Homo sapiens: one gene and its partners. The protein of the gene in region 1 purifies or fractionates together with the protein of each later gene. This does not show direct contact. Each region holds a gene or a part of one and is shown on either strand. Other genes may lie near its edges. The genes, in order: PSKH2, IQCB1, GLUD1, MYO5A, HADHA, SPAG9 and FKBP5.

What was found.
Region 2: the proteins of PSKH2 (region 1) and IQCB1 purify together in Homo sapiens (affinity purification with mass spectrometry; one large-scale study listed by BioGRID and IntAct). This does not show direct contact.
Region 3: the proteins of PSKH2 (region 1) and GLUD1 purify together in Homo sapiens (affinity purification with mass spectrometry; one large-scale study listed by BioGRID and IntAct). This does not show direct contact.
Region 4: the proteins of PSKH2 (region 1) and MYO5A purify together in Homo sapiens (affinity purification with mass spectrometry; one large-scale study listed by BioGRID and IntAct). This does not show direct contact.
Region 5: the proteins of PSKH2 (region 1) and HADHA purify together in Homo sapiens (affinity purification with mass spectrometry; one large-scale study listed by BioGRID and IntAct). This does not show direct contact.
Region 6: the proteins of PSKH2 (region 1) and SPAG9 purify together in Homo sapiens (affinity purification with mass spectrometry; one large-scale study listed by BioGRID and IntAct). This does not show direct contact.
Region 7: the proteins of PSKH2 (region 1) and FKBP5 purify together in Homo sapiens (affinity purification with mass spectrometry; 4 studies listed by BioGRID and IntAct, with this or other methods). This does not show direct contact.

Annotation. Positions count from the first base shown.
Region 1 is NC_000008.11:86,062,709-86,066,961, forward strand, and holds part of PSKH2 (serine/threonine-protein kinase H2), read right to left. Parts: intron 1,924-4,253; coding exon 1,257-1,923; intron 1-1,256.
Region 2 is NC_000003.12:121,800,313-121,804,565, forward strand, and holds part of IQCB1 (IQ calmodulin-binding motif-containing protein 1), read right to left. Parts: intron 1-4,253. UniProt on the Homo sapiens protein: Involved in ciliogenesis. The function in an early step in cilia formation depends on its association with CEP290/NPHP6.
Region 3 is NC_000010.11:87,091,816-87,096,837, reverse strand, and holds the start of GLUD1 (glutamate dehydrogenase 1, mitochondrial isoform a precursor), read left to right. Parts: upstream 1-1,994; 5' UTR 1,995-2,068; coding exon 2,069-2,513; intron 2,514-2,750; exon of another isoform or gene 2,751-2,859; coding exon of another isoform or gene 2,860-2,905; intron 2,906-4,183; exon of another isoform or gene 4,184-4,256; intron 4,257-5,022. UniProt on the Homo sapiens protein: Mitochondrial glutamate dehydrogenase that catalyzes the conversion of L-glutamate into alpha-ketoglutarate. Plays a key role in glutamine anaplerosis by producing alpha-ketoglutarate, an important intermediate in the tricarboxylic acid cycle.
Region 4 is NC_000015.10:52,518,282-52,522,534, forward strand, and holds part of MYO5A (unconventional myosin-Va), read right to left. Parts: intron 1-4,253. UniProt on the Homo sapiens protein: Processive actin-based motor that can move in large steps approximating the 36-nm pseudo-repeat of the actin filament. Can hydrolyze ATP in the presence of actin, which is essential for its function as a motor protein. Involved in melanosome transport.
Region 5 is NC_000002.12:26,230,543-26,234,795, forward strand, and holds part of HADHA (trifunctional enzyme subunit alpha, mitochondrial precursor), read right to left. Parts: intron 3,814-4,253; coding exon 3,675-3,813; intron 1,738-3,674; coding exon 1,618-1,737; intron 1-1,617. UniProt on the Homo sapiens protein: Mitochondrial trifunctional enzyme catalyzes the last three of the four reactions of the mitochondrial beta-oxidation pathway.
Region 6 is NC_000017.11:51,110,569-51,114,821, forward strand, and holds part of SPAG9 (C-Jun-amino-terminal kinase-interacting protein 4), read right to left. Parts: intron 1-4,253. UniProt on the Homo sapiens protein: The JNK-interacting protein (JIP) group of scaffold proteins selectively mediates JNK signaling by aggregating specific components of the MAPK cascade to form a functional JNK signaling module.
Region 7 is NC_000006.12:35,678,895-35,683,147, forward strand, and holds part of FKBP5 (peptidyl-prolyl cis-trans isomerase FKBP5), read right to left. Parts: intron 1-4,253. UniProt on the Homo sapiens protein: Immunophilin protein with PPIase and co-chaperone activities. Component of unligated steroid receptors heterocomplexes through interaction with heat-shock protein 90 (HSP90).

The DNA of each region.
Region 1 (4,253 bases):
GACAGCTAAACCTTTTTTAAAATATAAATTACCCAGTCTTGAATATTTCTTTACAGTAGTGTGAAAATGGACTAAGACAGTTCTAGATTCATATTTTCAAACTACTTTCCAAGAAACCTGTGACAATTTGTCCTCTACTAGTACTTAGTGAGAGGGCTAATCTCTCAGTACCCTTCACAGCCATATGTAGAATTTAGTTGTTTGTTGTTTTATCTTTATGAATTTGAAAGACAATAAAAAGACATTTTTGTGTTCATTTGCATTTCTTTGGTCATTAGTGAGGCTGGACATTTTTCAGACTTTTAATAATCAGTGGTATTGCATTGTCTGTGAATTCTTCCCATCCTTTCCTACTTCCTTGTATAAATTTTAGCTCTCATTTATCAATTTGAATGAGTTTGTAAAAACATATACATGTACCATAAGGCACTAAAGGTCTGTCAGAGTGTAGAAAACATTATATTTAAATTTGGTGTTTAACTTTAATTTTGCTTAAAGATGTTGCTGTAGATATACACGTTACATTTTAAGTAGGTATAAGCAAATATCAATGTTTTTCTTCATGAGAAATTAGAAGTCAAATAAATTTGCTCATCTGCTGTACATGAAATGAATTTCCTATTTTGTCAGGCTTCCCACACACAAGCATTGGCAACTTTCCTTCCCTACCCAAAACAACAAAAAAGTTAACACATTCATGAACACTGGGAGTTTCAAGTTTAATCAGTGGATAAATATTTTACACAAGCTGTGAGGTTAAACATTTCGCTGAGAAAACACTTCATCACAAAAAGGGCTTGGATCATCAAGATTTAAGGCAGAAAAATCTCTCGCTAAACACCCAAGCGTCATGCTGAGTTTCTGTGAACACATTAGTCTAGTCAGCCAGCTCAGGCTCTGCACAGATTGGAGAAAAAAACTGCAGAGGAACTCATTTATCTACTTGATTGTCAGTGTCATGTGCTAACCACAGGCAGCTAGTAATGGAGGCCCTTGCTATCTTGAGTCAAATGGCTCTCAGTCAGGGGCGATTTTGCCCCACAGGGGACATTTAACAATGTCTGGAGACATTTGGGGGCCCCACAACTGGGGGAGGTACATTACTGGTATTTAGAGTAGAGGGCAGTGATGCTGCTAAGCATCCTACAGCACACAGGACAACCCCAAAAATCATCCAGTCTTAAATGTCAAAAGTGACAAGGTGGAGAAGCCCCACTCTAAACCAACACAATAGAAATAAAATAATGCTCTCTTACCTCTCCTGTATAATTATATTTGCCTTTCAGAATCTTCCTGTAAAGCCTTGTCTGGCTTTCATCATCAAAAGGCAGGAATCCGCTAAGTAAAGCATATGTGATCACACCAAGAGCCCACATGTCCACTGCACTGGTATAAGGCTTCCTTAGCAAAACCTCAGGAGCTATGTACTCTGGGGTCCCACAGAGTGTCTTCATTGTCCAGTCACCACTTTTTTTCCCGGAGTATGCCAAACCAAAATCTGTAATTAAAATTTTCGACTCTTCACCTGGATGATAGTATAAGAGGTTTTCAGGCTTTAGATTCCTATGAGTTATCTGCAGCGCATGCAAATACCTAATCCCATCAGCAACCATCTGGAGGATCCTGACGGCATCCCGCTCTGTAAAGGATCCCTGAGCAATGAGTCGATCAAAGAGCTCCCCTCCGGTAGCCAGCTCCATTACCATGTAAACTTGATCCTCAGTCTCAAAGATCTCCATGAGCTGGACAATGTAACGATGGCTAACCCGCCGCAGGACGCTCAGCTCAGACACGCACGCTTCTCTACCTTCCCTCTCTCTGGTTTCCATCACTTTTATTGCAAAAGGTTTCTTGGTGGTCTTCTGCTCTACCCTGACAACCCTGCTGAAACTGCCTGTCCCAATAAGAGCTTTGATGTCATATCTGTTGGGAAGAAAAACCAAACATGTTATCCCCAGAAGTGATGATTCTCAAAATTATTTAAGTCCATGCTTTATATCATCTTTTCTATCCTTCTATTCCTCCCATCAGATTTATTTGTTTATTATTACTTGTGTTTATTATTTTTTGAAAGGTACCCCAAATCCTGTTTTGAAATGGAGGAAAACGATATAAAGGTAATTTGTTGGTAGAAAGACAATCTTAATACAATAACTACCATTTATTATACAGTTATTATATGCCAACAATTTTTAAAAATCTTATCCCTACTAAAACCCTGCTGGGTAATATAATAATATCCCCCTTTTTCAAATAAGGAAATTCAGACTTAAAAAGAAGTTAAATGAGTTATCAAGGGCACCCAGATTGTGGTTGGAATGGATGGGATTCAAATCCAGCCCTTTCAAATGCATTTCACAAAAACTGTTTCAAGAATGTTAAGACCCCCCTCTACCAATTTCTTTCCTTCCTCTAGCCCTTGTTTTTGTCATTCTTCAACAACAAACAAATCAAGTGGGGGAGAATAAAGTAGAAGCTTACTCCTGTTTATAATTTCTCAAAGGCTGAGGATCCCATATCAGAAGACAGAGAATAAACAGTATGTTTCTTTGGGTTGCTTGACTGTGAGCTCAGCCCCAGGCTCATCTTGTACACAGTAGCTGTTAATAAGGAAGAAGTAAATGCAGCTGTGCTATTATAAGAGCCGGTTTCAGCAGTCTGGTGGGAGTAGTGTTAGGGCCACCTTGCAGCCAGTAGCTTCTCACAGTCTCCCTCCATCCCCATACCCACACTTGGAATTTCTCGGCAGTAAAGAGAATTTTAACATGGAATGTATGTCAATAATTTGTAAACCAATTATCCCACAAAAAGGCCAAGAACATATGTTTACCTACGTAACAAACCTGCACATCCTGCACATGTACCCCTGAACTTAAAATAAAAGTTGAAGAAAAAAAGGCCAGGATATCAGCTCAGATTTCAAATGCTAGGGATCTTAAGCTTTAATTATCTGTGTAAACGTCTATTAAAATTTAAGAATCTGGCCAGGCACGGTGGGCTCATCGTGTAATCCCAGCACTTTGGGAGGCCGAGGTGGGAAGACTGTTTGAGCCTAGGAGTTTGAGAGCAGCCTGAGCAAAAAACTGAGACCCCTTCTCTATAACAAATTTAAAAATTAGCCAATCATGATGCACAGCTGTAGCCCCGGCTACTGAGGGGACTGAAGCAGGAGGATCCCTCGAGCCCAGGAATTTGAGGTTGCAGTGAGCTGTGATCAGACCACTGCACTCCAGCTTGGGTGAGAGAGCGAGACCTCTGTCTCAAAAATTAAAAAAATAAAATAAAATAGAATCCTATCAAATTTAACCCTCTACCTCATATTTAAGACATGTTGAGAAAATGCTAGACTTAAAATCACGATTGTATAGCTGGAAAGAATATTAAAGTTGGGTATTTAACCCAACTTCTTGTTTTACTGATGAGGAAATTTGAAGACCACATTAGCCAATTGGTTGTTTACGTTGTAGAGTCAGGATTAGAACGCAGGTCTCCTTTTTTTTTTTTTTTTTGAGATGGAGTTTTGCTCTGTCACCCAGGCTGGAGTACAGTGGCATGATCTTGGCTGACTGCAACCTCTGCCTCCCGGGTTCAAGAGATTCTCCTGCCTCAGCCTCCTGAGTAGCTGAGATTACAGGTGCACACCACCATGCCTGGCTAATTTTTGTATTTTTTTTAGTAGAGACGGGATTTCACCATGTTTGCCAGGCTGGTCTTGAACTCCTGACCTGAAGTGATCTGCCCACCTCAGCCTCCCAAAGTGTTGGGATTACAGGTATGAGCCACTGTGCCTGGACTTCATTTTAATAAAACCTCTCCTAGCTAAGGATGACAGAGAATGGAATGTACTCAGGGAGTACCCAGGGAGAAGGCACGTTTTTATATCACATATTCAATACCAAAGATTCAAATGCAAATACTAAACTATGCTTTAAATAGTCTTACTTCTTTTATTGAGCTTATTTTTCCTGTAACTTTTTTTTTTGCCTTCTTGTTTGTTCTTTATATTCCTGTGTGTATTGAATAAAAATGACATTTGGCTGTACCAGATTACAGAAAACAGCTTTGTTCTCCACAGAGCATTTAATTTTCTGGCCAATTACCTTATCAAAACAGATAGCAATTTAGTAATCTTAAATAGATTCTTTCCCCTTTTCCCTTTCCAACTCTGCTTTTCTATTCACATGCATTCTCAGTGTGATTTTGAAGATAATCACAGGCATTTCAAATTCTATTGCTTTGCAGACCAACCAAGT
Region 2 (4,253 bases), on another chromosome or scaffold:
TGCATAAAATTTTGAGCAGTCAAATTTTATATTTGTATAAGACTCATGTTTGAGCTTTTTGAAAATTGTACTTTAGTAGTTACTAAAATAATTTTGTTAAGAGAAAAGAGATCAGCAACATACCTTAAATGTAAAAATCTCTGAGTTGAAAGACTTTATAAAGTTATCCAATCAAAATATGTGAGAATCTTTGTGACATCTACTTCTGTGCCACTGTGTCTCTTACATGCTATTCCCTATGCCTAGGATGCTCACCCTGTCCCATCAGTCAATGTCATCACACTATTCAAAACTCAGATTAAAAAATATGCTCATCTCAGAAAGCCTTCTACAGATATCCCTATCCCAATCTTATCACATCTTTACTCCATATCCCACCAAGAGTTTGTGCTATAATGTAATACAGTAGTTTAAATGCTTTTAGATGCTCTTCAACCTCCTAATCTTAAAGACATCCTCTCTATACCACTACCATCTTATCTCTCTGCTTCTCTTCTAATCCAATTTCTGTTGCCACTATCTCACATCTCATTTCTCAAACCACTGCATCTAGTTTTCATTTTTTACTATTTCACTATACTATCCTTGATAAGTTCATCAGTATAACTTCCCAAATGTCAAGTCACATATATACCATAAGTGATTCTTTTCCTAGACTTGTTTGTATCTGATACTTTCTACTTACTCAGCTTCTGTGATACAAAGTTCTGGTCTCCCCTCTACCTTCCACCCATACTTTTCTGACCATTCTTTTTCATTTGTCTTTGTGGGCTCCACTTCCCCAGTATAACCCTAAAAGGTTATTCCCCAAGACTCCATTTTCAAGCCATTTATTTTCTCATTGTATTCACACTTCCTACTAATCTCACTTTCTGTCATGTTTTTCTCTACCATGTATAAGCTGATTTGTAAATCTGTAACTCTAGTCCCAATCTCTTCCAGAAGTTAGTTTACCTATTCACCTGATGGACATTTGAGTTTTAGCTAGTCCTTGTTTTTCACAAATAAAGCTCAATGAACATTTGTGTATAAGTCTTTATATAGATACTTACTTTTACTGCATGTTGAACTACCTATACTCAACATAACCAACATTGAATTAATCATCTGTCTCACAAAACCAACTTCTTATATATTCCACATACCACAGTCTAATCACCCAATACAGAAAACTTGGTATCATATCTGACTGCACCATTTATTTTATCTACCCCATATCAAAACATTCACCAAGTCATCATAATTTTTGTTTTAAACAGCTTTTTAAAAATATAATTGATATACAACAAACTGCATATATGTAAAGCATATAATTTCATCAGTTTGACATGTTTCACCAACATAAAACAAGAAAATGAATATATCTATCACCCCTAAAAGCTTCCTTGTATTTCATTGTAGTTCCTCCCTTGTTGCCTTCCCTATCATTCTATGCCCAGGAAACCACCGATCTGCTTTCTGAGAAAGTTCCCTTGTATTACTACTTTGCTGCAAGGCCTTTTTTTTTTTTTTTTTTTTTAATTAAAATCAGGGCTAGATAATGGATTTTGTCAAAAGCTTTTTCTGTATCTACTGATATGATGGTATGTTTTTTCCATTTTTAGCTTGTTAACATAAGTTACAATGACTGACTTCAGAATATTAAACCAGCCCTGAATGCCGGGATAAACCAGAATTATTCATGACGTATTAACTTTTTAATATATTGTTGAATTTGACTTATAAAATTTTGTTCAGAACATTTCTATCTATGTTTATGAATATACTGATGAGTAGTTTTCTTTTCTTATAATGTCTTTGTTTGGTTTTGGTATCAGGATAATGCTGACCTTATAGAATGAGTTGTAAGTGTTTCCTCCTTTTCGATTTTCTAGAAAAGTTTGCTTAAGATTATTATTTCTTCCTGAAGTGCTTAATAGAATTCACAGTGAAAAAGCCATCCAGACCTGGAGTTCTCTTTGTGGGAAGGTTTTTAGCTACAAATTCAATTTTTTTTTATAGCTATCTAGAGTATATTTGGGTTCTCTATTGCTCCTTGAGTAAATTTTGGTAGTTTGCGTCTTTCAATAAATTTGTCCATTTGATCTAAGTTGTTAAATTTATAAGCATAAAGTTGTTTATATTATTCCCTTGTGATATTTTTAGTATTTGTAGACTCTGTTACGATGTTACCTCTCTAATTCCTGAGATTGGTCATTTGTATTATGTCTTTTCCTTTCCATATTAATCTTGCTACAGGTTTCTTCTCAAAGAGCCAGTTTATGGTTTGTTTTCTCAAAAAACTTCAATCTTCCCAAAGATCCAGTTTATGGTTTATTTCTCTATCACGTTTGCTTAGAATTTTATTGATTTCTGCTCAACCTTTATCATTTTCTTTCTTCTGCTTAGAGTTTAATTCCCCCTTCTTTTCCTAGTTTCTTAAAGGGGAAAGCCGAGGTCAATGATTTGAGATTTTTCTTCTTTTCTAATATATAGGCATTAGTGATATAAATTTCCCCTAAGTATCATTCTGCTTTAATTAAGAATTTCCCCAGAAATTCTCATGTTGTTTTTATTTCCATTCATTTAAAAATAATTTCTAATTTCACTTTTGATTTCTCCTTTGTCTTGTGAGTTATTTAGATGAATGTTATTATTTCCCACATATTTGGGGACTTTTCAGAGATCTTCTTGGCATCAATTTCCAACTTAATTCCATCGAGGCCAGAGAACATACTTTGTATAACTGAAATCCTTTTACGTTGCTTTTTTCTTTTTTTTGAGACAGGGTCTTGCTCTGTTGCCTAGGCTGGAGTGTAGTGATGTGATCTCAACTCACCGTAACCTCTGCTTCCTGGGCTCAAGAGATTCTCCCACCTCAGCATCCCAAGTAGCTGGGACTAGAGGCACCTGCCACCATGCCCAGCTAATTTTTTGTACTTTTTGTAGAGATGGGGTTTTGCCATGCTGCCCAGGCTGGTCTGGATCTCCTGGACTTAAGTGATCTGCTCACCTCAGCAAAGTGCTGAGATTACAGGTGTGAGCCACCGTGCCCGGCCCCTTTTGTGTTTCTTGAGACTTTATTTATGGCTCGGAATATGCACCCTTCTTTGTAAATGTTCCATCTGCATTTGAAAAGAACATGTATTCTGCTACTGTTTGGTAGAATATTTGTAAAATGTCAATCAGGTCAGATTGGTTGATATTATTGTTCAAATCTGTGGTCATACTAATTTTTTTGTCTACTTATTCTATTAAATATCAAAAGAGGTATATTAACATCTTTTGCTTTAATTGAGGATTTCTCCTTGTAGTTCTTGTCAATTTTTGCTTGTGTATTTTAAAACTCTATTAGGTCAATAAACACATCCTTTTGATGAACTGACTTTTTTTATGATTATGAAATAACCTTCTTTAGCACTAGAAATATTCTTTGTTCTGTAACTTACTTTATCTGATACTAATACAGGTACTTCAACTTTCTGTGGTATAAGCACGGTATATCTTGTTCCACCCCATTACTTTTAACCTACTTGTGTCTTTATATCTAAGGTGCATTTCTGGTAGACAGCATATAGTAGGCTTGTACTTTTTAAATCCAATCTGTCAATCTGTCTTTTAACTTTAGTTTTTCCACATTTACATCTAAGATAGATAGGTTTAAATCTACCACTTGGTTTTGTTTCTCCTTTGTTCTTCTTTTTTTTTTACTTCCTTCTTCTGGATTGCGTATTTTTTAATGATTAATTTTTATTGCCTTTGTTGGCTTATCAGCTGTAAATTCTTTGTTTTGCTATTTTCTTCACTGCTTTGAGGTTCAAAGTATACATTTCAATTTCTCACAGTCTTATCACTTATCACAGTGATATTATACCACTTCATGTATAGTATAAGAGTCTTACATCAGTATACTTCCATTTATCTCCTCCCAGCCTTAATGCCCTTTTGGAATACATTCTACTTATACATATGTTCCTCAAATACAGCATTATTTTTGTGTAGGCAAACATATTATAGATATATTAAAATAATATAAGAAAAACTATCTTATATGTTTATGTAATCACCATTTCCGATACTCTATTTCTTTGTGTAGATGAATTTCCCTTCTGATGGAAGGACTTCCTTGAATATTTTTTGTAGTGTTGGTCTGCTGGTGATTTCTGAAGAAGTATTTCATCTTTGCTTTTGAATATATTTCTGCTGAGCATGTAATTCTAATTTGACAGTTTTCTTTTTCAGTATTCAACTGTCTTTTTACTTGTGTTGTTTCT
Region 3 (5,022 bases), on another chromosome or scaffold:
TTGAGAGTACACTTAGATGAATGTCATTTAACAGATCCAGGTTGTCACCTTATATTTTACACAATATTTCGAGAACTAAGAACTTTCTCTTCCATATTCTAAAAGATGAATAACATGAACATATCGGGAAGCACCATCGTTTTGCAGGTCCAATGGGTGTCATTTTAAAACCACCCAAGTACACTGAGACCGCTAACGCTAGTAATGTGGTGTTTGGCAGCTAGTTTTAATGACTGTCATTAGAGCTTTATTTTTTATTTTCTTTTTATAGAGACGAGCCCAGGCTGGTCTTGAACTCCTGGCCTCAAGCGATCAGCCTGCTTTGGCCCCCAAAGTGCTGGGATTACAGGCGTGAGCCACCGTGCCAGCCTCGTTAGTTTGAAAAGCACCAAAAGCTATCCATAGGAATGTGAACTTTAGCATTTCCTATCAAGTATGTATAAATACATAACTGAACCCTCATACAGCATAAAGCTTATAAATCATATACTGAGGCCAGGCGCGGTGGCTCACGTCTGTAATCCCAGCATTCTGGGAGGCCTAGGCGGGCGGATCACTTGAGGTCAGGCGTTGGAGACCAGCCTGGCCAGCACAGCGAAACCCCGTCTCTACTAAAAATGCAAAAATTAGCCGGGCGTGGTGGCGCGGGCCTGTAATCCCAGCTACCCCGAGGCTGAGGCAGGAGAATCGCTAGAACGAACCCAGGGAGGTGGAAGCTGCAGTGAGCCGAGATGGTGCCACTACACTCCCGCCTGGGCGACAGAGCAAGATTCCATCTCAAATAAATAAATAAAATAAAAAATAAATCATATACTGAACCATTTAACAAATACATATATTCCTGAGAAAGAATTTCCTGGGGGCATTATCGCATTTCTAGTTTCCTTATTTTAGACTATTTCAGAGGGAGATAGGGTCTCCCTCTGTTGCCCAGGCTGGGGTGCAGTGGAGCTATCGTAGCTCACTGCAGCCTCGAACTCCTGGGCTCAAGCCATCCTCCAGCCTCGACCTCCCAAAGTGCTAGGACTAAAGGCGTGAGCCACCGCGCCGGGCCGGAGCCTCTGTCTGCAAAGGTGAAGCAGTCAGTACTGTGGGGCGACACAACCACGACGTGCGTAACTATGCGATCTCCACACTGCGGAGCAGTTGAACGGGACAATAAAAGCTCGCGTGGTGAGAGCTTGTGGGCGAGTGACTCCCTTCCAGCTCACGCCAGCCACGCATAATCCAACTCCGGGTGCCACGCCGCTCTCTGCAGCCCTGGCTGGTGACGCCGAGCCCTCAGCCCGGCCTTACGCGGCGGCGGCTCTGCCTCGCTTTCCTGCCCACGTGTCAGCCCCTGCACGCCCGGCCCCGGCCTGAGGCCGCCAGAGGACAGGCCAGGGTGGGCCGCCCGTTCCGAGGGCGCGCGGGCGGAAAGGAGGGGCGCCCGTGACTCACATGACCCGGTCCCCGACCAGACCGCCAAGCCTCACCCACGCGGCGCTCGGGGGGACTCGGCCTCTGAGCGCCCTACAGAGGCCAGCCCCCGACCCCGACCTCCCTGGGCTACCCCCAACCCCCCTGAGGGACCCCCGCGGCGCACATACCTGAGAGCCCCGCCGGAGGCGGGTGCGGCCTCCGGGCAAATCCGGCCGCCCGTGGGCCCGCCCCGACCCGCCCCGACCCGCCCCGACCTTCCCCTCCCTGCCCCTCCCGTCCGTTCCCCTCCACTCTCCTCCCCGCCCTTCCTCTCCCCTCCCCTCCCTTCCCCACTGGCGCGCGAGCGTGCGCGCCGAGCCCGCCCGCGCCTGCGCGCCCCCGACGCCCCGCCGGCGCGCGCTGCCGCCAGCGAGGCCCGGGGAGGCCGCGGCGGAGGCGGAGGCCCGGCGCCCTGGGCGGCGCCCTGTCCCCGAAGTCCGTCCTCCCCGTTAGGTGGCGAGCGCCCGAGGGGAGGGGACAGCCGGGCAAGCAGGAAGCTGCGGCTTAAAAGGGCAACCCGCGCGGGACCCTTCCTCCCTAGTCGCGGGGAGTCTGAGAAAGCGCGCCTGTTTCGCGACCATCACGCACCTCCCCTCCGCTTGTGGCCATGTACCGCTACCTGGGCGAAGCGCTGTTGCTGTCCCGGGCCGGGCCCGCTGCCCTGGGCTCGGCGTCCGCCGACTCGGCCGCGTTGCTGGGCTGGGCCCGGGGACAGCCCGCCGCCGCCCCGCAGCCGGGGCTGGCATTGGCCGCCCGGCGCCACTACAGCGAGGCGGTGGCCGACCGCGAGGACGACCCCAACTTCTTCAAGATGGTGGAGGGCTTCTTCGATCGCGGCGCCAGCATCGTGGAGGACAAGCTGGTGGAGGACCTGAGGACCCGGGAGAGCGAGGAGCAGAAGCGGAACCGGGTGCGCGGCATCCTGCGGATCATCAAGCCCTGCAACCATGTGCTGAGTCTCTCCTTCCCCATCCGGCGCGACGACGGCTCCTGGGAGGTCATCGAAGGCTACCGGGCCCAGCACAGCCAGCACCGCACGCCCTGCAAGGGAGGTGAGCGTCGGCCGGGCCCCGTCCCGCCCTCCCTGCCTCCCCTGCGGCCCTCCCCTCCGGCCTCCTGCCGGTGCGGGGCCGCTGCTCAGCCCAGCCCAGCCCAGCTGGAGCGGGCCGGGTCCCCGCCCGGGTCACCCCGCCTCGGATGTGGCCGGCTCTGTGGATGGTGATTTTTCCGCCTTAAAATCATCATGCGATTGGCCTGCCCCCTCCCCCGCGCCGTCACCCCGGGCCTCTGTATATGCTGATCTTGCATGCAGAGTAGACGCTGCACCGGTCTCCTTTTGGTCCCGGTGTCTGTGTCACACACGGCGGGTCCTGCCGAAATGCACTTCTAGGAAAGGGAATGACCTGCCCGTGTGATAATGCCTCGTCAGTGTTCTTGGGCTTTTGTGAGTCTCCCCTAAATGCAAGCTGTCAAATTATTTTCTGGTATTTGTTCACTCCTGTTCCAATAGTGACAGATGATATCCGAACATAGAAAATGACTTGGCTTCTAAGTTTGAAATCTAGACAGTTTTATTAACCAAAGGAATTTACTAATCACGCGTTAATCGTTTCAATTAAGTAATTTTCCCATTCTGACAAGTTCTGTTTTATACCAAAAAAAAGGAAAAACACAAAAAAATCACAAGCAATGTAATATCTCTGACAAATAAACACCTGGCGTCCTGACAGTAAATTTACAGGTTGTAGGCTGCGGATGGCCAGCCAGCCAATGGAATGAAATAGCTCTGGGGGTGTGTACTGGTCCTGGCTAGCCCTGAATTTGAGCTTCAGGAAAAATATAGTACGTGAAGAAAGGGGTCAGATAATGTTTGGTAGTCACTGGGTTATCCTGTGGTTTAAATCATTTAATGTCTGTAGATTTGGCCTCTGTAGTCAGATTGCTTTCTTCGAGCAAATAAGAGCTTTTTTCCCCCCAATACATTGCATCATACCTCTTTAGTAACATAAAATGGAAAGGACAAACCACTTTTGTCTACTGTAAAAAAGAAAAATTATATGGAATAAAGAGCCCAGGGAGGCGAGGAGTCTTGTTGGAGGTGGATTGGCTGAGAAGCACAGAGGATGTTGGGCTAGACCCATGTCTCAGTAAACCTGGTTCTGTGGTCTTTCAGTTATGCCCGCTGACTTATGAGGATTTTTAGAAATCCTCTCTGTACCGGAAAAAACTTGAGCGGTGCTGGTGTTCCCAGCAGGGGGGACAAAGGTTGTTTTTAAAGATTTACTAAATTTGCATTGACCCCGCCCACTTCTAGGACTTAACTTTGGAGCTTAATTATCCCCTAGCTCTGGTTGCCTCAGCCAAAACCAATGTTTGAACCACTTTGACCTCTGATTTCCTTTCTAGCTTCAAAATTGTATAAAATGTACACACCGTCAGTCTCCTACATTTGCCTGCCTTCTTCCTACCACTCCCTTATTATCCAAACCAGGAAAACAAGTTCAGACTCCAAAGAAAGGCAAATAAGGATGTTGGAGGAAGTTCAGGCAATGTTTAGCAAATATTGAGTTGCATCGTTTTCTTAAAACGGACATCAAGTTTATTTTTTACTATCTTGCTGGCAGCATTTGCCAGTCCTTTAAAAGGTGTACAGATAAATCAGTGTATGTGGTTTTCTGCAGGATGATTTGGTCTCTGAAATCCTTTTTCTTCGATTCTTCAGATGCCCAGCTCTCTCCTGTTTTTATAAGTCGCAGCTCCGCAAACTCACTGAAGCAACTCGTTTACCATAGTTTGTGAGTCCTCTTTCTCTTGTTGCCACAGCAGTTTTAATGCCAAAATATTGAACCTAGCAACAAATTGGGTCAGCCATACCAAAGCACTGTTACTGTAGCACTTGCTTGTACTAGAGTGTAAGATACAATTTTCTGTTCCGTTTATCCCATTTACAAAAAAACATGCTATTAACCCCCAGCATATAAACAGGGAGAAACTGAATTGTTACTAGTAAACTGTTGCAAGCATTGATAGAACATCAAAGAAAATTGGCCTCTACAAAGTGACAAATTTATTATCTTCAGGAATTTGAAAGGCTTTCTGGATTGGGGAAGATTACATAGCTATGAAAGCCCTTAAATATTTTAGTTTGCTTAATAAACAGTATACTAAACAGATGATCAGCAAAATTTGGGTACTATAGCCTTCCATGCTTTGTGTTCAAGACATCCCCAGATCTATCTACCCATTTATCACCCTTGTTTGCAGAGAATGTGCATTGTAAGAGAGACAGGTCTTCTTTCTTAAAGCTTTTTTAACGTCTAAGAAATTGTTAACCTTTGTAGTCCCACTCTAGTCTTAGAAACACAGAATATATTAGGTGATTGAGATTTTTTTAAATGCTTTGGATAATCCCTATGAAATTCTGTCTTTCCCTCTTAAACATATTTTAACACGTTCTTCTTACCTCTCCCCACTAACCTGTCTTCTCTCCCATTGGTTCTTTGCCAAAAAAAAAAACCTCATCTGCCTCTCTCCACCCTTTTACCAACCTTCAGCTTTCTG
Region 4 (4,253 bases), on another chromosome or scaffold:
AAAAAGAATTATCCAGCCTACTATCAGTGGTGCAGAGGTTGAGAAATTTTGGTCAAGGATGAAAAAAATTAGTATAAACAGTAAGAGTGGGTTAAAATGCAATAGTAACTCTAAGGGGCTTAACATTTTCATTTCTTAAACAAGAAATACACATTCCGACTTTATGAAAATGTAATCTAGGTTGTGGACCAAAATTCCTTATTATTAAGATATACATTTCCCAATTTTACAGACAGCATCTCCAGAAAAATTCTGCTCCCAACCCAACCATGCTGCTTATCAAACTAGAAGATTTTTTTCTAAGCTTAAGCATAGAGAGACCAACCCCGTGTAAAAGTTGTTTAAGTACTGGCAGAAAAGTGTTTTAAGGTGAGATCATATCTTTAAAGGAATATCTAGTCATCTTACTGTAATGCAGACCAGTATGGTAAGCTAAAAAACTAAGGTTGAACTAGTCTAGTCTAACTAGTCTAAAACTAGTCTAACACAAAAGTGTTTGTTTGAAACACATAAACATGCTCACAAACACAGAAAATGATTTATGCAAACTCATAAAAAATGACTTCCTTTGTGATGTCAGATCAGGGAGTGGTAATAAAGCAAAAACAAAAATGAAGTTCCCTCCTCAATCTAAGTTATGAAAAAAAGATTCACCCTTTAGTAACTTATTTTATTCCATTATAGGTGTGGGATGTATATATACTTCGTTATAACAAATCATAACAGGGCATAAGGGGTGGGTAGATAAAATTAAATAGTAGGGGGATAAAGCAGATGAACAGGTGGAAGGAAGAGAACAGAAGACAGACTACCACTAGACATGAACAAGGAATGACGGACAGGCAAAAAGAAATTGTGCACAATTCTTACTGTTGTGCAATAAGAAATCGTGCAACTTATCTATGTATGAAAATAGGGGAAGAGAATAACGTATGCAAGCAAGGATGTGAAGAAAATAGGGGAAATAAAATGCTGAGGAAATACGGTAGAAAGAAATCAGTAAGAAAGGTGACATAGGGTTCATAGCCCCCAAATTAAGACTGAATAATGGCCGGGCATGGTAGCTCCCGCCTATAATCTCAGCACTTTTGGGATAATTAAGTGGGAGATTGCTTGAAGCCAAAAGTTTGAGACTAGTCTGAGAAACAAAGTGAGACTCTGTCTCTACAAAAATTAAAAAATTAGCCAGGCATGGTGGCATGCGCTTACAGTCCCGGTTACTCAGGAGGCTGAGCTGGGAGGGCTGCTTGAGCCCAGGAGTTCGAGGCTGCAGTGAGCTATGCTTGCGCTACTGCACTCTAGTGTGGGCAACAGAACGAGACCTTGTCTAAAAAAAATAATAATAATAATAATAATAATAATACATGAAAAATCAAAATTGAAGACTGAATAAATTTTCAAAATTTCAATTTCTAACATGCTATTAGTAACATTTGCTTGCACAGACGCTCCATGGCTTTTTTTTTTGAGACAGAGTCTTGCTTTGTCGCCCAGGCTGGAGTGCACCGGCACGATCTCAACTCACTGGAACCTCTGCTTCCCGGGTTCAAGCGATTCTCCTGCCTCGGCCTCCTGAGTAGCTGGGATTACAGGCACACGCCACCACGCCCGGCTAATTTTTGTATTTTTAGTAGAGACAGGGTTTCACCGTGTTAGCCAAGCTGGTCTCAAGCTCCTGACCTCATGATCCGCCCGCCTTGGCCTCCCAAAGTGCTGAGGATTACAGGCATGAGCCACCGCACCTGGCCTGGCTTCTATTTTTCAATCCAAAATGATTCTCTAGGGGAAAGATACCTAATGTCCCCGGTCAAGCAAAATTTCCCATTCTTCTTGCTCAAAGATCAGAAAAGGAGGGGTAGAATTCCATGACTATCATTTTCAGTGACCTATTCATAGCATACATGGACTGAGGGTAGTTGTTTATTTTGACTACCTAGCACTTTTCCTTCCAATGGCGAACAGCTCACAGCCATCCCATGAGGTTGGAGTAGGACTATCAATCACAGTGCCCTGTCCTCCCCCTGGTCTCTGGGGTGAGCACAGACTTGACCACTCATGGTGCTCCTCACCTACTGCCTAGAGGCCCAATGAAAGGAGAAGGCACATGACCAGAATTCCTCTATCAGGCTCTCTTCCTCCAGGCCCAGTGCTGTAAGATCATGTGATCTGCAGGTGCCACTGACCATCTTTTCACCCCTAAAAAAAGCTGCCCTCAGGATGAAACCAATGTCAGACAGCATGTGAGAGTCAGTGAAGAGAGCCCCAATGACCATGTCTGAGCCTTGATTCCAGCCATGCCTAGATTTTTAAGTCACATGAGCAAATAAACTCCTCTTTGGCTTTGAGTTTGGGTTTCTGTTTCTTCCAACTAAAACAGCTGTGGCTGGTAAACTGACTAACACTGTTAAAGAGAGGTTTGGTAAGTCAATGTGCCAAACCTCTCATCCATAAATTACCCAGACCCTCTCTATTTACATCCTGTACCTCAGCTAATACCATAACTTGAAGTGATGAGTTTCAGAAATGTAAAATGTAAATGTTTAAAGTAGAAATTCATTTAAAATGGCATATATTGATTTGTTTCAAGATCTAAAACATATCCCTACTAAACTGAGATTTGATGTTACAAACTTCCACTATTCTGGATGTCAAAGAGTCTACTATAGGGCTGGGCACAGTGGTTCACGCCAGTAATCTCAGCACTTTGGGAGGCCGAGGCAGGCGTATCACATGGTCAGGAGTTCGAGACCCGCCTGGCCAGTACTGTGAAACCCCATCGCTACTAAAAATACAAAAATTAGCCAGGGGTGGTGGCACATGCCTGTAGTCCCAGCTACTCGGGAGGCTGAGGCAGAAGAATCGATTGAACACAGGAGGCAGAGGTTGCAGTGAGCTGAGATCACGCCACTGCACTCCAGCCTGGGTGACAGAGCGAGACTCTGTCTCAAAAAAAAAAAAAAAAAACCTCTACTGTATTCCCAGCTCACCTTCATCTTTCTAAACTAGAGAGTTCGACACCTTTAATCTGTCTAGCCTCTTCACTGCCCTGATCATTTTACTTCTCCTATTCTGAAATTTCTCTAGTTTCATGTACATTTGTCAAGAAGTAGAAACCCCAACCACACATGCAGGATTCCTGGCCAGGACTATATGTTTTTGTATATGTGACAAAAGATGGACAAAACCTATCTTTTTTGTGCATCCAGTCTCCCTCTAGCCCAGCATCTTGCCCACATTTTTGGCCACAGTAGTACATTAGGCCACAGGAGGTAGATACATGGTCCTCATGAACACTTAGTGCATTATGTACAATGCACTTCTCCCTTGATTTCAATCAAGTTTAGAACCATTATTTTGAAATCAAAAAATAATTACATCATCCCTAAGTTCTACAATTGGCAAAAAGCCTTTGCTGTACAAGGAGATATTTAACGCTAATGCCTGCTAGTTAAAAAGAATTCCAAGTGAGGAGGGCTTAGAAGAGAAATGGAGAATGCCTGAGGCATGAAGAGCCAGGGATAAGTTTCTGCAAAGTTTAGGTTGTATCAGCACAAACTCAGACTGATGTTACAACCAAGACAGATGGGGAAGAGGAACCGTTAAAGGGCAAAATTAACCAAAGGGCATTTCAGAAGGCATCAAAGGCAGACATCATTAATAAAGGCAAAGTGGTCAGTGTGTGAAGGAAAGATTAAACAAAAATCATCTAAACTCCTTTTATATCCACTTCCGCCTCCCACTGAAAATGAAACTCCACAGCCATGATCTCCAATGCCAGGCCTTTGTAATAAGTATCTCTATTGGTTGGGCTAAGGTGGAACCATAGCATTCATTTCGGAAAAACCAAAAAGAAAAAACTTCCTTCTGCCCTAATGAGCAAGCATAACTCCAGTAAACTCCCTGAAGATGTTGGGGAAGATAAGAGACAAAGCACAAGGGAACTTTTGGGGTGATGGAAATGTTCTGCATCTTGTTTGTGGCGGTGGTTACATGACAGAATATATGTGTCAAAACTCATCAAACTGTACACTTAAAATGAGGGACTTTTCAAGTATATTATACCTCAATAAAGTTGATGAAAGATTGGGAGTGGGGTGGTGCTGGGGAGAAAAGGACAAACTCCCTAGGAAGATAAATAGAATAAGTCTAGGAAGACCACTGTAGGATGGAGGACATGCCTTCAGGTGAGGTGGAAGAAGTGGAATTGCTCACATAATATTTTGTCTATGGCCAGACCTTACTCCACAGATCAG
Region 5 (4,253 bases), on another chromosome or scaffold:
ACTAATAAGGTAAAGAATTTCATGTTTCCTAAAATTGTACATTTCTGTTATTCTGAGGGGTTTTTTTCTATCATATATATAATATGTAAAATTCTGGCCAGGCACGGTGGCTCACACCTGTAATTCCAGCACTTTGGGAGGCCAAGGCAGGCGGGTCACCTGAGGTTAGGAGTTTGAGACCAGCCTGGCCCGACATGGTGAAACCCTGTCTTTACTAAAAATACAAAAAATTAGCTGGGCATGGTGGGGCACACCTGTCATTCCAGCTACTTGGGAGGCTGAGGCACAAGAATTGCTTGAATCCGGAGGCAGAGGTTGCAGTGAGCCGAGATCATGCCACTGTACTCCAGCCTGAACAACAAAAGTGACTCTGTCCCAAAAATAAAATAAAATAAAATTCTCATATTGAAACTAGAGAAGACTGTGAGAAACCTGATAGTTTTGACAAAGTCTTTAAAAAGAATTTTAAGCTTAACAAAAATAGAACTCAGCTAGGGCTGCTTATATGGCATACTAGAAGAAAGGCTTCTAGCAACATTCAAATACCAGCTATAGTTTAAGAAAAAAAAAAGAAGAAAGAAAGAAACTCAGCAAATATTTTTGATACACATATATGCATATTCATTCTTTCAATAAATCCTTATGACATTCCTATGAAGGAAAGCACATTATTATTATTAGAAAATTAACACCATAAACCTTGTTTTCTTTTGTGCTCAATTGAGATCAACTTCCCTGCAAAGAGTATTTCTGTTGAGCCTTGTTTTCACTGAGGAATCTACAGTGCCAGAAGCTATAAGGTTCAGTGGGCCCTTGAGTTGACATTAAGATTGCTCTGCAGCATCCAGGTCTGACTGTCCTTCCCTTCTCCTTGGAATTCAAAGCCTGCTGAGCCTCTTTTGGTTCCATACAACACAGCAGTGAGAACATCCAAATCAGACAATGAGGGAAAAGGTCTGCCTCTTATATTTGTAATGAAATATTAATATGACTCATGGTTTTGAAAAACTGTTAAGATGGTATTATGTGGAAAAGGAACCAATTAAACCATAAGCTCCAGAAATGCAAGACATGCATCTTAGTTATCTTTATCCTTCCTCAGAGACTAACAAAGGACCTTGATCAATAATTCTGTGGAATTAGGCCAGGCATGGTGGTTCATGCCTGTAGTCCTAGCACTTTGGGAGGCTGAGGCGGGAGGATTACCTGAGGTCGGGAGTTCAAGACCAGCCTGGCCAACATGGCGAAACTCCATCTCTACTAAAAAATATAAAAAATTAGCTGGGTGCAGTGGTGCACGCCTGTAATTCCAGCTACTGGGGAGGCTGAGGCAGGAGAATCGCTTGAACCTGGGAGGAGAAGGTTGCAGTGAGCTGAGATCACACCACTGCACTCTAGCCTGGGCTACAGAGCAAGATTTTGTCTCAAAAAAAAAAAAAAAAAAAAATCTGTGGAATTGAAAAAATAAGTACCAGGAATAAAGTCTGTCACTGATCCTGTACACTCATATTTTATTTGGTTTTTTAATTCTACAATGAATGCCCATATTATGCATTTTATACAAGAAAACAGATCTAAAGAGGGCATATAGCTTCACAAAGGGGATGTTAGACTCACCATTTTGGGCAGCCTTTGTGTGCCTCCTGCTCCTGGTAAGGCCCCCAGCAAAACTTCAGGGGTACCTAATACTGTTTTTCTGTCTTTTGTTGCTATTCTGTATTGGCATGAAATGGCAACCTTTGAACAAATGAAAGAAAATTAGAATGTTAGAAAATGTAACTTAGTAGCAACTTGAGATGGATAAGGGTCTAAAGATTATTTATAAAGCAGGAATGTGCTCACAGAATAAACTGAAATTCCTTAGGCTGGCATTTAATAATTTCTAGAATTTACCTTTTTAGCCTTTTTTTCATACTTTTCCTCTAATTTACTAACCTCTTTTTGGGCCGTAGATCTCCTAAAAAATCTACTGAAAGCTAGAGAAGCTCTCAAGAGAAAAATGCACACACAATTTTATATGGACCCCAGGTTAAAAAGCCCCGGACTCTCCAATCAAGCACGTCTACTTACAGTGTCCTAGTTGGCTTTGCTTTTGCCTTTGCTCACACCATACCATATGCGGAATTGTTTTTCCCTCCATATTCTGGTTAATCAAATTCTGCTTATAGTTTAGGACCAGGCACAGGTTTTCTTAATTAATATAGTCATGTGTCACATAATGAGGGGGATATGTTCTGAGAAATGTACCATTAGGAAATTTTGTTGTTGTGTGAACATCGCAGAGTGTACTTACACAAACCCAGATGGCAGAGCCTGCTACACATCTAGGCTATATGGGATAGCCTATTGCTCCTAGTCCAGCAGTCCCCAACCTTTTTGACGCCAGGGACAGGTTTTGTGAAAGGCAATTTTTCCAAGAACTGGGGGTGGGGTGGGAGGGAGTGGTTTCAGGATGAAACTGTTCCACTTCAAATCATCAGGCAATAGAGGCCAATGGAGTGCGCAACCTGGATCCCTCTCATGTGCAGTTCACAACAGGGTTCCAGCTCTTATGAGAATCTAATGCCACTGTTGATATGACAGGAGGCGGAACTCAGGTGGTAATGTTCACTCGCCCACTGCTCACCTCCTGCTGTGGGGCCCAGTTCCTAACAGGCTATGGCCTGGGAACTGGGGACCCCTGTCCTAAGGGGCTACAAACCTGGACTGCATGTGACTATTGAATACTGTAGGCAACTGTGGCACAGTGATAAGCATTTCTGTATCTAAACACAGAAAAGGTATAGAAAAATGTAGTGTTACAGTCTTATAGAACCACTGCTGTATGTGCAATTGGTCATTGAAACGTTATGTGGTAAATGACTGCATATGTGAAAGTGTCTGGCACAGAGTTCAGCATGTGAAAAGTGCTCAATGAATGTTTCCTTTTCCCCTTCTTTTCTTTCCTACATGTTCGGGTCTAGTAAGCATCTCTTCTCTCAAATCTTCTATTATTTACCGTCTTTACTACTGACAAAGCACTTATATTATGCTTTATGTGTCTCAACCAGACTTAAGTAGCTTAAGAGCCTAGATCACACTTCTGAATCTTTGCCCTGCAAACTTGAACAAGATTTTTACAGCTGAAAAGGACATTAGAGATGCAGTTCAAATGAAAACATCACACCTTCATTTACTTGCTTTGTGCCACTTGCTCTGTGTCATGTGGATTAAGGATTAACACCTATCCAGAAGTTTGATAACTAAAAACAAAGCTATTTAGGCACAGTGGCTCACACCTGTAATCCCAGCACTTTGGGAGGCCGAGGCGGGAGGATCACCTGAGGTCAGGAGTTTGAGACCAGCCTGGCCAACATGGTGAAACCCCATCTCTACTAAAAATACAAAAATTAGCTGGGCATGGTGATGCACACCTGTAATCCCAGCTACTGGGGAGGCTGAAGCAGGAGAATTGTTTGAAGCCAGGAGGCAGAGGTTGCAGTGAGCCAAGATCGTGCCATTGCTCTCCAGCCTGGGAGACAAGAGCAAAATTCCGTCTCAAAGCAAAAAACAAAAAACAAAGCGGATTCTCCTCCAGAAACTTTTTCCAGGCAAAGCAGTAGCCTAAGGGTTTACAGCTGATGAATGCCACCAATGAGTTGGACAGTGTCTCAATAACTTTAGAATATCTATACCTCAAGTCCTCCTCCCAGGCAGGATCCATTGATGGCAGCCACAATAGGCTTTGTGGACTTTTCAAGTTTCTCAACTATTCTCTGTGCTTCTTGTGATAGCTGTGTTACTTCTTGAAGGGTCTTGCAAGCGGCTAACATGCTGCATTATCCATAAAAGTAGAGAACAGAGAAAAAGATAAAACTATAATTTATTTGGTTCAATACTTATTCACTATACACTTATCCTATCATGCATCAATATTTGATGACAAATCTTCAAATAGAAGGTTAAGAATGATTTTGCTTCAAATAGCACAATAGCAGCAACATCATTTCTCCATAAAGAGTGTTAAACTTCTGGATCCATGAGACCATCCCGGCTAACACGGTGAAACCCCGTCTCTACTAAAAATACAAAAAATTAGCTGGGCATAGTGGCGGGCGCCTGTAGTCCCAGCTACTTGGGAGGCTGAGGCAGGAGAACAGTGTGAAACCGGGAGGTGGAGCTTGCAGTGAGCCGAGATCGCGCCACTGCACTCCAGCCTGGGCGACAGAGTGAGACTCTGTCTCAAAAAAAAAAAAAAAAATTCTGGATCCAGA
Region 6 (4,253 bases), on another chromosome or scaffold:
GTCCCATCTACTTGGGAGGCTGAGACGGAAGGATGGCTTGAGCCCAAGAGGCAACAGTTGCAGTGAGCCAAGATCGCACCACTGCACTCCAACCTGGGCCAGACCTTGTCTCGAAAAAAATAACATAAAATAAAATTCTATACCCTCAACTTGGTACTTCTCTATTACATTAATATATAAATTCCCATGGTTCACCTCACACATTTTTGGGTGTGCCTATTATGCCAAACTACTGAATGCTGTAATTCTTAAGAAAATAAAACACAGTATGGCCGGGTGGGTGGCTCATGCCTGTAATCCCACCACTTTGGGAGGCCGAGGCGGGCAGATCACGAGGTCAGATTGAGACCATCCTGGCTAACGCAGTGAAACCCCATCTCTACTAAAAATACAAAAAATTAGCCGGGTGTGGTGGCGGGCGCCTGTAGTCCCAGCTACACGGGAGGCTGAGGCAGGAGAATCGCTTGAATCCAGGAGGCGGAGGTTGCAGTGAGCCGAGATCCCGCCACTGCACTCCAGCCAGGGTGACAGAGCAAGACTCCGTCTCAAAAAAAAAAAGAAAAGAAAACACAGTGCTATGTTCAAAGCAATAATCAAATATCACTGGTCAAGATTTCAAAGTAAAAAACAGAACTTATATATACCCATTTCCAAATAACAGCTTTTTAAATATATATAACATTACATACATTATTAAACTGGTCTATGCAGATATTTCTGACCACAACCTAATAACTTATTTAGATAACAGCTGTATTCATTGAGTGCAGAGCAGAGCAAAATAACTTGGGTAGGTTCTAACATCAGTTCTCCTGAGAAGCAAAGTTCAGTACAACATAAGTAAGCAGCATGTAGTTAAAGGTAAGGTAAAGATTTCAAGAAGCAGGAATCCTGTACTCTCTCAAGCACAGAACTGGATGTGTGACCTATGGCACACACTTCAGCAATCCAGTGAATAGTCAATCTACTAATCTACCCTCTGAACCAGTTTGGTACTATACCCAGTTTGGTGTCCTCTTTTGTGATTTTTTTTTGTTTTGTTTTTTCTTTTGAAGACACAGTCTCACTCTGTAGCTCAGGCTGGAGTTCAATGGCAAGATATTGGCTCACTACAACCTCCGCCTCCCAGGTACAAGTGATTTTCCTTCCTCTGCCTCCGGAGTAGCTTGGATTACAGGCGTCCGCCACCATGCCCAGTTAATTTTTGTATTTTTAGTAGAGACGGGGTTTCACCATGTTGGTCAGGGCTGGTCTTGAACTCCTGACCTCAGGCAATCCACCACCTCGGCCTCCCAAAGTGCTGAAATTACAGGCATGAGCCACCATGCGTAGCGTTCTTTTGTGATTTTTAACTAAATAAAAATATGAGTGTCACTACAGCAGGGACACATAATGGTATCTCATTTAGATATTCACATTCAGAAATCTCAAATTTAAAAAAAGATGTCTTAATCCAGAGCTAGTCTTTGTCTTTAAAAAAAAATGTCTTAGGAGCTTAAGTAATAATTAACTAACAAATTATTATTTCATAAAGCAACAACCATACCCCTTCCCATCCCACTCCCGCCAGAAAACAAACATAGATTGTTCATTTCAGAAAGTGTCTGAATGACTAGGTGCAGGGGCATATCTCTATCTACTCTGGCTAGGGGCAGTGTGAACATTATTCGAATCGTTAACCATGGCCAGGTGTGGTGGCTCACACCTACAATCCCAACACTTTGGGAGGCTGAGGTAAGAAAATGTCTTGAGGCCAGGAGTTCAAGACAAGCCTGGGCAACACAGTGTGACCCCATCTCTACAAAAAAAAAAAAAAAAAAAAGGCCAGGCGCAGTGGCTCACACCTGTAATCCTAGCACTTTGGGAGGCTGGGGCAGGCAGATGACTTGAGGTCGAGATCAAGACCATCCTGGCCAACATGGTGAAACCCCATCTCCACTAAAAATACAAAAATTAGCTGGGTGTGATGGCGCGCGCCTGTAGTCCCAGCTACTCAGGAGGCTGAAGCAAGAGAATCGCTTGAACCCAGGTGGTGGAGGTTGCAGCAAGCCAAGACACTCCACTGCACTCCAGACTGGCGACAGAGCCAGACTCTGTCTCAACAAAAAAAAAAAAAAAAAAAAAAAAAAAACTTTGGCAGGATCCACAAGGCAGGAGGATCCACTTGAGCCCAGGAGTTCCAGACCAGACTGGGCAACATAGTGAGTTCAGCTTGCATAACATAACGAGACCCTGTTTCTACAAAAAAAATTAAAAATTAGCCAGGCATGGTGGCGCATGCCTGTAGTCACAGCTGCTCAGAGGCTGAGGAAGTGGGATCTACTTGAGCCCTGGAGGTCAAGGCTGCTGTGGGCCATGATTGCACAACTGCACTCCAGCCTGAACCTCATCTCTAAAAAAAAGAAAAAAAAAAAAACCCAACCAAAGGAAAAAAAAATCACAAAAACAAACAGTTCAGAAAAAAAAAATGGTATTTTTAAAAATATGAAAAAATGTTGGCCGCTGCCGGGCGTGGTGGCTCACACCCATAATCCCAGCACTTTGGGAGGCCGAGGCCGGCGGATCACCTGAGGTTGGGAGTTCGAGACCAGCCTGACCAACATGGAGAAACCCCATCTTTACTACAAATACAAAATTAGCTGGCCATGGTGGCACATGCCTGTAATCCCAGCTACTCAGGAGGCTGAGGCAGGAGAATCCTTTGTATCTGGGAGGCGGAGGTTGCAGTGAGCTGAGATCGCACCATTGCGCTCCAGCCTGGGCAACAAGTGTGAAATGCCATATCAAAAAAAAAAAAAAAAAAGAAAGAAAAGAAAAAGCAAATAGGTTGGCCGGGCACAGTGTCTCACACCTGTAATCCCAGCACTTTGGGAGGCCAAGGCAGGTGGATCACCTGAGGTTAGGAGTTCAATACCAGCCTGGACAACATGGTAAAACCCCATCTCTATTAAAAATACAAAAGTTAGCGAGGTGTGGTTGTGAGCACCTGTAGTCCCAGCTACTCAGGAGGATGAGGCAGGAGAACTGCTTGAACCCGGGAGGCAGAGGTTGCAGTGAGCCAAGATCGCGCTACTGCACTCCAGCATGGGTGGCAAAGCAAGACCCCATCTCAAAAAAAAAAAAAACAACAACAACAAAAGAAAATAGGTTGGGTGCAGTGGCTCACACCTGTAATCACAGCACTTTGGGAGGCTGAGGTGCGAGGAATGTCTGAGCCCAAATATTCAAGATCAGCCTGGGCAACATGGGAAACCCATTTCTACAAAAAATACAAAAATTAGCCAGGCATGGCGGCATGATCCTGTAGTCCCAGCTATTCCGGAAGTTGAGATGGGAGGATCGCTTGAACCCAGGAGGCAGAGGTTGCAGTCAGCCGGGATTACACCACTGCACTCTGGCCTGGGCAACAGAGTGAGATCTCGTCTCAATCAATCAATCAAAAGATCTATAAAAATATTAAAATATGTGTTTTTTAGGCCAGGTGCGGTGGCTCACGCTTGTAATCCCAGCACTTTGGGAGGCCGAGGCAGGGGGATCACCTGAGGTCAAGAGTTTGAGACCAGCCTGGACAACATGGTGAAACCCCTTCTCTATTAAAACTACAAAAATTAGCCGGGCGTGCTGGCGCGTGCCTGTAATCCCAAACTACTAGGGAGGCTGAGGCAGGAGAATTGCTTGAACCTGGAAGGTGGGAGTTACAGTGATCTGAGATCGCACCACTGCACTCCAGCCTGGGCGACAGCACAAGACTCTGTCTCAAAAATAAATTTTTTAAAAAATGGGCCAGGCATGGTGGCTCATGCCTGTAATCCCAACACTTTGGCAGGCCAAGGTAGGCAGATAACAAGGTCAGGAGTTCAAGACCAGCCTGGCTAACATGGTGAAACCCCATCTCTACTAAAAATACAAAAAGTAGCTGGGCATGGTGGCTCATGCCTATAATCCCAGCTACTCAGAAGGCTGAGACAGAAGAACTGCTTGAATCCAGAAGGCAGAGGTTGCAGTAAGCCAAGATCGTGCCTCTGCACCCCAGCCTGGGCAACAGAGCGTGAAACTCAGTCTCAAAAATAAATAAAATTAAAAAATAAAATATCAAGTGTGGGCCAAGTGTGGTGGCTCACGCCTGTAATCCCAGCACTTTGGGAGGTTGAGGCAGATGAATCACTTGAGGTCAGGAGTTTTACACCACCCTGGCCAACATGGTGAAACCCTGTCTCTACTGAAAATACAAAAATTAGCCGGGTGTAGTGGTG
Region 7 (4,253 bases), on another chromosome or scaffold:
AACATAGTGAGACTGTGGCTCTACAAAAAAACTTAAAAATTAGCTGGTCATGGTGATGCATACCTGTAATCCCAGCTACTGTGGAGGCTGAGGTGGGAGGACTGTTTGTACTTAGGAGGTCAAGGCTGCAGCATGCTGTGATTTCACCACTGCATTTCAACCTGAGCAACAAGTAGGACCCTGTCTCAAAAAAATATATGAAATACAAATAACCAAAATGTCAGTAATTAATGAATCTGGGGAATGGGTACATGGAGGTTCATTAAAGAATCTGGAGAGGAGGTATATGGAACTTCATTAGACAATTCTCTACGATTCTGTGTATGTATGCAACTTTCATAATAAAAAGTCTAAAAAGGTCTACTTACAGGTATACTTTTTAAATCCTATCTTCAGTTAAGGCTGACCATTCTAAACAAAATTCTGGCAGATACTTTTCAAAGAATGTTTTCTTCATTCTCGACTGATCAATTAAACACCATAGTGAAATGGACCATAAAAGGGGAAAAGGCCTATTCTGTCATTTCAGAGAAATATGAACATGTTTATTACATGGAAGAAGTTAGTCCTTTTATCCATGTTGATTGATATCAGACATCTGTCATTCTTCAAAGAATTATGTTTTTGTTGAAAAATATATAAGTTAAATGAGTAAAGAAAACATGGCATACACACACAACGGAATACTACTCAGCCATAAAAAAGGAATGAAATAATGTCTTTTACAACAACTTTGATAAAGCTGGATACATTATTCTAAGTGAACTAACTCAGGAATGGAAAACCAAATACTGCATGTTCTCACCTATAAGTGGGAGATAAACTATGAGTACACAAAGGCATACAGAGTGATATAATGGATTCTAGAGACTCAGAAGAGGGCAGGGGAAAGGAATAAAAAACTACATATTGGGTAAAATGTGTATTACTCAGGTAACAGATGCACTAAAATCTCAGAATTCACCATGATATAATTCATCCATGTAACCAAAAACCACTTGTACTCCAAAGCTATTGAAATAAAAATATATTAAATTTAAAAACTTATAAATAAAAATATATAGGTCATATAACTTTATTATTTTCATGAGTAAAGGCAAAATAAATGTTTATGTTGAATATCAATGATTAATTTGTTGAAGCATCTGGTTAGCCCTCCAGTTACTTCAAACATCTTCTACTCGACTATATGACCAAATAAAACAACTTTCTGATGTAGATGGAAAAAAAAAAAAGATTTAAAAAAATGAACCAGGCCAGGCACAGTGGCTTATACCTGCAGTCCTAACACTTTGGGAGGCCAAGGTGGGAGGATCACTTGAGGCCAGGAGTTCAAGACCAGCCTGAGCAACACAGCAAGACTCTGTCTCTACAATTTTTCTTTAATTAGCCAGACATGGTGGTGCACGCCTATAGTCCCAGCCACTCAGGAAACTGAGGCAGGAGAATCATTTGAGCCCAGGAGTTCCAGGCTGCAGTGAGCTATGATCGCACTACTGCACTCCAGACTGGGCAACAGAATTAGACCCTGTTTCAAAAGAAAAAACAAAAAGAACCAATATCCATTAATTATGCCTAATACTAAATTGTAATGAACACATACTAAAAATTACATAAAATAAGTAGTAGAATTGGAAAGTTGAATTTTTTTAGCCATTATTGTTTAAGCTATGATTTAAATTGATTTAATCTAAATCAAATCACACTATTGAGGCTGTGGAAACATTAAATCTAGTAGACAGTGACAGATTTACCACTTACCAATGATCAAGAATAGTTTAGTTTACAAACACCAATGTCTTTCCTGCCTATGAAAAATAGCACCACCCAAAAACAACAACCAGATTTGTATGCCTCCTCTTCTTTGGCTAAGTTCTAGGATAGTAAAAACTGTTCATGTCTTTGCAACAGCTAGCACATTGTAGGTATACAACTCTTTTAACAGAAACAGTCACAACTTCCAATTCCCAGAAAGCTATTGCTAGGTTTCAGTCACATTCCCTAGGTGACATGTGTAGGATAACAAAATAAAGCAGGTTTGCCTTGTAGGCAGTTCTACCTTGAATCGTTTTGAGGATCCTGTTTCTTCTAACAGAAACATGTCATGAGTCTTTAGTGAAAAGCAGTATAAATACATATACATGAAGACAAAAGACAGCCAACGATTCTTTTTCTCATCATTATTAAACCACTGGTTAATTCCTAACTGAGGTATTTCATGTTTTTTAGATAACAAGATCATCCTCATTTTCAACACTTTTTTTAGCTTTCTTTCCTTTATTAAAGTAAAATTTACATACTATAAAATCTTAAGTTTGAATCAATATGTTTGAGTAAATGTATATAACAATTGGCAAAACTGGATAAAGGTATACGGAAGCTCTTTGTACTAGTCTTGCAACTTTTCTGTAAGTTAAAAATTACATGAAAACGAAGTTACCCAAAAAGTATATAACTGAATTACCATCACCCAAGTCAAGCTACAGAATATTTCCATCATGCCAGAAAGTTTCCTTGTGCTCCTTTCCAGTCAACCACAACCCCTACCCAGAGGCAACCACTGTCCTGATTTCTATCACCATACCTTAGTTTTGCCTGTTCTTGTATTTTTCATAAATGGCATCATAAACACTTATACATACTCATCTGTGCCTGGCTTCTCTTGCTATGAACAGTATTTCTGAGATTCATCTATGTTGCTATGTGAATCAGTAGTTTATTCCTACTGTGAAAAAAGCTGCTATGACCCAGTCTTTTTGTGGGCATATATACTTATTCCTCTTGGTACAATAAGATTTCACAGAAAAAAAGTTTCGCATATAAATATGCCTGGGAAATAAGGCAGTATAGATAGATACTGCTATACACACATAAAACATATAGCAACCATATATACCATTATATATAATGTAAAAAAGATATTTGATATTTATACATATGTGTAATATATGTGTAATACACACACATACATAAGCTTGAATAATTCTGATCACGCCACTGCACTCCAGTCTGGGCGATAGAGTGAGACTGTCTCAAAAAAAAGAATTTATAAAGTTCATAGTGAAAGTAAATCTAAGATGGGAAAGATGAGCATCTCAATTTTTCTAAGTTTATGTCTTAACCTAACAATAACTCAAAAGAGAAACAAGTATCTCTCCATGTAAATTACCCTGTTAGGTTTCAATGAAACACCTTTTCTCTTGTAACAAACATCTCCTCCAAGCTAGAATTTCAAAACAGTGTTACCATCCACTAGGTAATAATTTTTATGCTAGCAACAAAACCCAAAATATGTGTTCAGATTACAAGACTGTTTTTATTGTCTTGCTTTTTTAAAAAAGTTAAACATGGAAAAACTTAATTAATTAATATCTAACATGGGTAAAGAACATTCCATGCTCATTCAGAATATATTCTGATGCAGACTCAATCTCTAAGATGTTTTCTCCATTCCAAAAAGTAACCTATCGCAGCATTATGTCCATGACTGGGACATCTTGACTTTCAAATTCACTGTGCAATTTTCAGCTAACAATGGAGGAGGTTCTTTAGTTTCCAGAGATAGGAACACTGAGAACAAGTACAAATCTAACTTTTGAAAAGATCAATCTGAAATTTGCAACCCTGCTTTTGATAATGAAATGACCATTTTCTGGGGACTCCTCATTTATAACATCTTTAAATTGCCAAGTTTAAAACAGAATGCTACAAATGATTCTAGAAATTTACCACTGCCCACTTAGGATTTGCAACTACAAAAGGGAAAAAACAACCCTCTTCCAGTCTGATTTTTCTTCATCTCTTATTCTTCTTTCCAAAAAACGAACAATTTCAAAAGGATACAATTCAAATGTACTACATTTTTAAGCCAGGCATGGTGGCTTGGGCCTGGGATCCCAGCACTTTGGGAGGCTGAGACAAGAGGATTGCTTGAGCCCAGGAGTTTGTGTCGAGGCTGCAGTTAGCCACCACACTTCAGCCTCGGTGACAGAGCAAGAAACAATCTCTTTTAAAAAAAAAAAAAAAGAAAAAAAAGTATATATATATATATCCCATTTCTTTTTTAAAAAAAGGTTAAAAACATACGTCAATCTCTTTAAAATGTATGTATGTGTCTGTGTGTATATATATGTCTCTTCCAATCTTTTTCTTAAAAAAAGTATAGAAATATATATCCCAAGCTCTTTCTTTAAAAAAAAAAGTGTGTGTGTATATATATACGTATATGTGTGTGTGTGTGTGTGTGTGTGTGT